Linked DNA regions of Homo sapiens. The protein of the gene in region 2 interacts with the protein of the main gene of each other region in a pairwise test. Each region holds a gene or a part of one and is shown on either strand. Other genes may lie near its edges. The genes, in order: MAL2 and HSFX2.

Evidence for each region.
Region 1: the proteins of HSFX2 (region 2) and MAL2 interact in binary tests that used the Homo sapiens proteins (3 or more experiments, as listed by UniProt).

Annotation. Positions count from the first base shown.
Region 1 is NC_000008.11:119,214,750-119,218,564, forward strand, and holds part of MAL2 (protein MAL2), read left to right. Parts: exon of another isoform or gene 1-878; intron 879-3,815. UniProt on the Homo sapiens protein: Member of the machinery of polarized transport. Required for the indirect transcytotic route at the step of the egress of the transcytosing cargo from perinuclear endosomes in order for it to travel to the apical surface via a raft-dependent pathway.
Region 2 is NC_000023.11:149,593,011-149,596,925, reverse strand, and holds the start of HSFX2 (heat shock transcription factor, X-linked), read left to right. Parts: upstream 1-1,611; 5' UTR 1,612-2,225; coding exon 2,226-2,789; intron 2,790-3,626; coding exon 3,627-3,915.

The DNA.
Region 1 (3,815 bases), on a different chromosome or scaffold from region 2:
ATTTTTAAAGCCTTCAAATGTAAAGCTAAAAAGTAGAACTTCTTTTGCAATGAGTATTAACGTATTTTGGTCATAAGCCTCTTATGTGTATGTCATTTCTCATTACATCCCAGAATTTGTTCTGTTTTCCTAACTAACTAAATAAATAAACACCTTGCTGCCTTGCATCTCTAATGCAGGTCTATGCCAGGGCCAGTCCAGAAGCAGTTTGGACAGAAGTCAGCATGGTTAGAGGACAGATGGGGACTGATGAGGGGAGCAGGAGGCACTGGAAGAAGGCACAAGATTTACCCTGGTCAAAAGTTCCAGTGGCAGTTACAATAGAAATAGGTCATGTGGGCAAATTTGGGGCCGAAAAAAGATTTAAAATTGGGTGTCATGAATTCAACTGGCAAGAGGTACAAAGTTTCCCATAACTTTCCATCTCAGCCTCCTGAGATCTGGTACTAGGTGGTGGGTGTCACCAATAATAACTTGAGAATTGAGAAGTACATATTCTCGCTTCACTCGTTTTCATGCCTATTTTTGGACATCCACCATGAACCAGGGAGTGAGCTGGGCTCCAGACCGGAGTGTGTTCCTAGCATCCCAAGCTGCACTCCTAGAGCATTCTCTTTTGGAACCATTCATTACACATGCCGGTTGGTTTCCATTCATTTCAAGGAGGATGGATTGAGGACCTTCTGTAGAAAGCACCACCCTGGGTAATGAGCATACGGAGATGTTGAAGGCAATGTCACCGACTCTGACGTCACAGTCTAGTGGGTGAAATGGGCATGTAGATCCATGATTTTGATCCAGTTGTAATTGCTGTGGAGAATACACGCGTCAGTAACCGTGGAAGCACCGAGGGATGGCACCTGGCCAGGGAAGTCTTTCTGGAAAACATGGTAACTGGAGTTTAGTTATGCAGCAGAATTTTTACTGGCAGCATGCTAGGCAGAAACATGGTCAAGTGTGATCATTTCTCTATGCTCAGGGGATGAGGGGTAGAGGCTGGAATGCAAAGAGAGGGTGGTAGGAAAAGAAGCATTACAGGGAAGATGATGAGCTTGGGGAGGGGGGCAGCAGTATGCCTTGTAGTGGTACCAGTGATCTACAGTCGCATTGTGAATGAATCCATACTTGTGTGGGCTGCTTTGTAAATACATCTACCAGTTATATTGTATGTGTTGGCTAAGTATGTTTCTAGTTTAAGGAAATCTTTCAAAATGCGAATTGTATGTAAAATATAGCTAATTGTAGATAATCTTTTTTTTTCTAGCTGATAAATTTCTGAATATACTGAACACTTCTATAACCATGATGTTTCCTGTGCAGCACCCCATAAGTAAACATCCATTAAAATAGAAGGGGTTACAAGTAGATAAAGTGTTCTGAACTTCTGGGTGGGGGGGCCACATACCCCTTTGTGATTCTGATGAAAGGTGTGGACTGTGTCCTCAGAAAAATGCATATGTACTTGTCCACCCAATTTTATATGATTTTAGGAAATCATATGGAATATGGGTAGAAACCCTGCTTTAGAATGAACACTAAACCATGAGAGGGGCAGAATAGCAGAATGTTAAAATCATAAGTTCTGGAAGCCAATTGCCAAGTTCAAATTTCAGGTCTAACACTTATTAACTATATAACTAGGAACAAGTTATGAATGGATTTGTACCTCAATTAACTTACCTATAAAGTAGGAATAATAATGTTGTCTCTCAAGGTCTGTGAGGATTAAATTGGCACAAATAAAACCCTTATAACGGTGCTTATAACATAAGAGCTCAGTAAATGTTAAGTACTATTTCTGCTATCACCATTAGCTTCAACTTCTTACTCTAACTCTACAAGCCAGACTGGAAGACAAATATTTTTTTGCTTTTCCTCTATGTTTGCTGGGTGTTCATTCTCACTGCAGTAGAATAATGAATTATCCAATATATAGATAATAGAATTAGAAGGAGGGAGCTTAATACGGAAAGTTCTAAATAGTGTTTTCCCTTATGGGTAGTTTAGCCAGCCTTTATCCTTTCAAATTCACTTACCTTTTCCTGTTCTCATTCCAAACATTAATTGAAAATAGGTCACAGTAGAAATTAGCCGGTTTACTTTGTGGGTATACTAAGATGGAGGTGTCAAATTGGTTTGAAAAAATTTTTAGCTGTCAGAGGGTATGTTTAAAAGCAGGTAATTAGGAAATAAGTGACATTTGAAAAGAAAAAGGGCATTTGCAAAAGGAACCCTTTGGGAACATAAGACCGTCCAAACAGGAGATGAGTTAAGAATCTGTAATTCATGCACCCAGAATTGCAAGAGTTGCTACTTGCTCAAGAGCATGTTTTCCCGTGGGACTATGTATTTTTCCCATTCCACAGTTTCTAGTGAAAACATGTCTTCACATCAAACCCTGAGGATTCAGTTTAGTGTGATTTGTGGATAAATACTTCCGTGGTTTTCTTATGGTAGGGTTTCAGCCAAGTCATACCTTTCTGGTCTGCAGAGACCAAGCAAACATAACAAACATGTGTTAAACCAGAAAGAAGATCAGTTGTTTTAGGAATGTGTAGCAATTTAATAACTGCAACTCAGAATATATTTGAGTACTTCTGGTATGTACCCAGTACACCTAAAGTTGGGTTAAGAAGATAAAAGGTGACTGAGTCACCGGGAGATGCTGATACCTACTCCTAGGAGGTTTTTACCTTTGTATTGCCTGGAAGCAAAGGTAGTCTTTTTGTTAGAGCTTGAGGTTTGACGTCATAAGCACTGACTTAGTTTCTTAAAGAAATTTCAAATTGAGGTGCCTTTGGCTATTTTATACATAATTATTGGATTTTTTAGAACACTAGAAAGCAGTGGAAGGCAGTGGCAGGGAAGGGGTCAGAATATGGATTCAGATCCAAGACGATGAGAATAACGTGGGCGAAACATATAATAGTTCCGAATACCTTTCTTCACAGTGTGTACTCTGCAGTTGCTACTGTATTTATCATCTGTTCTCTGTCAGATTTAACCATTTTTGTGTTCTGCTTTTTACTTCTAAAAATATGGCCACCTCCAGAGTCGTCTCTACTGAACAGGAATGCTGATAATTACACCGTTTTGCAAACACTCTAAGCTCACTAATGCCCGGAATTAGAGGAAGTGAATATACTGAGCATTGGTCATCTCAATTTTTTAAGTTCAGTTTTTTAACTTAAAAAAACTGGAGCCAAGTTTAAGTTGGAGCCAAGTTGGGAAGCTCAAGAAGAAAAGTAGCTTTTGTCAAAAGGAAATCACAAAGTAGGGAATAATAACTGTGTCAAGGCCAGAGTGATCCATACACCAGTATGACAGTCTCAAAATGAGGATGGTGGCCCTCCAAAGTGGGCTCAATTATGTTCTCTGGCCCATCCTCTCTCTTCCAAAGCGAGCCTGGATTTCACAGAATCTCAGCTCTAGGGATGTATCATATGTATTTACTTGAGTGAGAGAGAGGGGGCATTCCTACACTCCTTCCCTCTCCCCTTTCCATGCAGCACATACCCCACAAGTGAGGAGGTGAATCTGACTCCTGTTCATGCAGCATTTAGTTTCCCTTCCAAGCCTTTGAGGTGTTTGAAGGGCTGTAATTTTGAGTACGATAAGAACGGTTAGTCTATACTATTTTACAGTATAGCCTCTGCTGTCAAAGCCTTGGTCTGTCTTGAAAGCTTACTCTGAAGCCTGCCTCCCCTGCCTACCTTTCCAGATTCTTCCCATTATATTTCTTCTCTCCTCTCCCCTCCCAGCCTCTCAGAACACACTGTGTTGAGCTCTTTTTATAGCACCCACCGCAATCTGCT
Region 2 (3,915 bases):
TGTGCGTGCCGTTTCTCCAAGCACTGCAGGTTCCACCGTGTGTCAGAGGCTGCAAGTTTAACATCCTCCTGCCTGAAAACAAATAGGTCCTTTGCTGAAAAGAGGGTAAAAAAAGAGCTTTGATCTTCTCAGCCAGGAGAAGAGGGTGGTGTTTTCACGCGGGCAACTGCTCGCCGGCCTACATGGGGTTAATTCAAGTCTGCTGCGAGCACGACTCCGCCCTTGGCACTGGCCTCCAGCAAGCCCTGTTCTCTTTGGGGTACAGGGGAACGGGATGGTTTAGACTTTCCTGCTCAGTGTGTAAAAAATGTAGCTAAAGCCACTATTTTTGCTCTCCTTAAGCTGTTCAATAAACCGGTTCCTCATTTTACACGTGCATGATGTGTATCTTCTTTGCTGGATGGGCCAGGAAACTGGAGTGGTCCTCTCAGCCAGCCTCAGAGGAAAGAAATCTCTAGCTGGCACAGGCAGCCAGTGAGTGAGGCTGGCGGCTGCAGGGGCACAGCCTTTAGAATGAGTCCTTCAGTGCACAGGTCCCAGGGTATACGGGGTAGTGGGAGGAAGGAGGGGACGCCTCGCAGATGCCACTGTTGGCTGGGCTACACCTTGCCACACTTGTTACTGCTTAGGAGGCTTTCTGGAGTGTTCCTTGGGTGCTACGACAATCTGCAGCAGACACTGTCCTTTCACCGCTCCTGGTCCTCGTTTGCTCCCCAGTGATGTCAACAGCTGAGGACTGCTCACGCTGCAACAAAAGGCTCTGCAGTCGCTGTCTAGCTTGCCCTAGTCGTCTCTAGAGTTCTGCCTGAACTGAAACTCAAGTGGGGTTCAGCTCATGACTTGTGGCAATTGACCAGGAAATTCACCAGTTGCTGTGGCTGGAAGGATTTTCAGTCCTGTGGGTTGTAACCAGAGGCCACAGGTGGATTCTGCCTTAGGCTCATGAGATTTCCGACTTGCTGTTGAAGAAAATGCCTTGTGAAGTGACAACAGTAGCTCTGACCCAACTGCCGGTGCCTCGCTAGTTCCTATACGTCCCACTGGATCCTCACAGCCCCGGGAAGCAGGTGCTACTACTCTTATCCCCGGGAGGAGACAGAGGCCGAGAGAGGTTAAGTGACGTGCCCAAGTCACACAGCTCGGCAGCGGCCGGGTTGAGCATCAGCAGTCTGTTTGCAGACCCCTCACTGTCACCCCCTGAGCCAGTGCGCCTTGGGCCCTGCGGTCAGGATGTCTCAAGCGTGGAGGCATCACCGGTTCGTGGCAGTCTCTGGAAGGTCACTGAGCTCTGTGCCCAGAATCGAGTCGGGGGAGTCTGTGCAGAGGTGGCCCTGTGTGTGGGGACAGTGTGTGACACAGACACTGCTTTGGATGGACACCTCTCCCGTGACCTCCTAGCATCCAATCCCAAAGGAACAACTGTTGCAGAGATGGACCGCTGGACACAAACCCACGTGCGTTTCTCTGGAGACACTGGCCAAGGAAAACAAAACATGCTCGAAGGCCAACAGCTGCATGCCCCACCGCGATGTGACCGCAGACACCCGGGGTGTAGAAGGGTCTCTGCCTGGTGGGGGGACACGTGCAGGCCGAGGAGAGGCAGGAAGGAGGCTGCCTCCGACTCCCCACTGGACTGCATGGCGACGGCGTGTGGTGGGGCAGTCAGCTAAGCCATTTGCCTAAGGGGCTGTCGGGCATCTGCGTGCTGGGGACCGACAGTGTGGGTGTGTTAGGAGGATCTGTATGGAGCACATTGCTGCCTCTGGCTAGGACAGGGTGGAAAGGGTGGCGTGGCTACAGCCTGACCCATGGGCACCGTCCTACCCTTTGTTCTGTGCTTCCGAGTGTCAGTCATGTGCTGGGGTCTGTGGGCCCATGACTCAGACGGTGAGCTCTGACCTTCCTGAGCCAGGGCTTTGCTGTAGTTGTGCCTGGCTCAGGAGCTCTAGGACAAGGGGACCGCTCCAGGTCTGCATCTACGGTGTGGCAGGGCCCCTCGGCACTCTTGTGCACTAGTGTCATCTTTCCCATTGAAATGACTGTGAGGACCAGAATGTGCACATGCAGATGGGCAGCTACTTGTCTGCCTTGGCCCTTTATTACACAACTTGCTGGGGGTGGAGATGCCACCCCCCGGCAGTCAGAGCCCCTTTATGATGTCATGGGGCTGGTTACATGACTGCCAAGGGGTGCTGCTGGCCACACTGCACTAGCAAGTTTGCCAGATGGAGGACAAGCGATCATTGAGTATGGCTCGCTGTGAAGAAAGAAATTCGAGGGGACAGGATCATGGCTTGGAAAGGGTGCCTTTCCCTCCCCAGTTGCAGTCAGAGACCTACCTTCACCCAGCAGATCCTTCCCCTGCCTGGGACGACCCGGGGTCCACTGGGAGCCCTAACTTGAGGCTGCTGACAGAAGAAATCGCTTTCCAACCTCTGGCCGAGGAAGCTTCGTTCAGAAGGCCGCACCCTGACGGTGACGTCCCGCCCCAGGGAGAAGATAATCTCCTCTCCCTCCCCTTTCCACAGAAACTGTGGAGACTGGTCAGCAGCAACCAGTTTTCGTCCATCTGGTGGGATGACAGTGGGGCTTGTAGAGTGATCAATCAAAAACTCTTTGAAAAGGAGATTCTCAAAAGGGACGTCGCACACAAAGTGTTTGCCACAACTTCGATAAAGAGCTTCTTCCGCCAGCTAAACTTGTATGGCTTCCGAAAACGGCGTCAATGCACTTTCAGGACCTTCACCCGCATTTTCTCCGCAAAAAGGCTGGTCTCCATCTTGAATAAGGTAATGAACGACAAGCCTCTGGAGGGGTTAAGTCGGTGGGCTCTGGGGCCTGGTCGGGTGGAAGTCCCAGGACTGCCTCCTGGGAAGTGGGCGACCTCAGGCAGGGTGTGGGGCCATCGCTGTGGGCCTGTGTCCCCCTCTGGGTGGAGGTGACATGAACTAAGAGTGAATGTGGGGAGAGGGCTGAGGATGGTGCGGGCCCCTCTCGAGTGTGTAAAATATCACAGGTGCCAAGTAGCCGTATCTGCGTGTCGTCCTCCCCGGGGCCAGCCATGTCATCTGGCGGTTGCTGTGTCCCCCTGACTCCACAGCACATTACCCTGTGAGGTGAGCAGGCCAGGGGAGTCTGGTATTTGTACCACTGTCACCCTAGCTGGTGTCTGGAGAGGTGCTCAAGTGGAAGCACTGAAGGGCGCCTGGCGCAGGAGGTGCAGATGCTCCTGCTGCCCTTGGTAGGTGGGCCCCTGGTGTGGAAGAGCCAGTACCCAGGGCCTCCAACCCAGCCGGGGTGCATTCTGTTGCCAGCTGACACTGCATGGGGGAGGCCCAGAATCTTCTTCCCTCCTGGTCTGCAACTTCAAAGACCCTTTCCGCCGGCCATGGACACCCTAATCTGCCATTTTGAGGCTTTTTCCAAGACGGAAAGGCCCGCCACAACTTGGTAAACCTTGACGATGTGAACGCGAGTCCCCAGCTTCCTTTGGGGACTGGGACCTTTTCCAGAAAGGCCTCCTGGGCCAGTAGAGTTCTCTTGCACAGGGGCGTAGATGGTTGGTAGTTGTAGTCCATCCTTGTGACTTGCAGTTTCCTTTTGTTTATTTAAACTTTGACTTATAGTTAGAGTTCTACTGCCATCCTTACTTTCAAAGAGACTCCCCTCACCTCCTCGTGAGGATGAAGAGAAGAGTGGGTGTCAAGTCTGCACCAAGACATCAGGAGGAGGACAAGCCAGAAGCTGCTGGATCCTGTCTGGCACCAGCAGACACTGAGCAACAAGATCACACGTCTCCGAATGAGAATGACCAGGTCACACCGCAACACCGGGAACCGGCCGGTCCCAACACCCAAATCAGGAGTGGCTCTGCTCCACCAGCAACTCCTGTGATGGTGCCTGATTCCGCCGTGG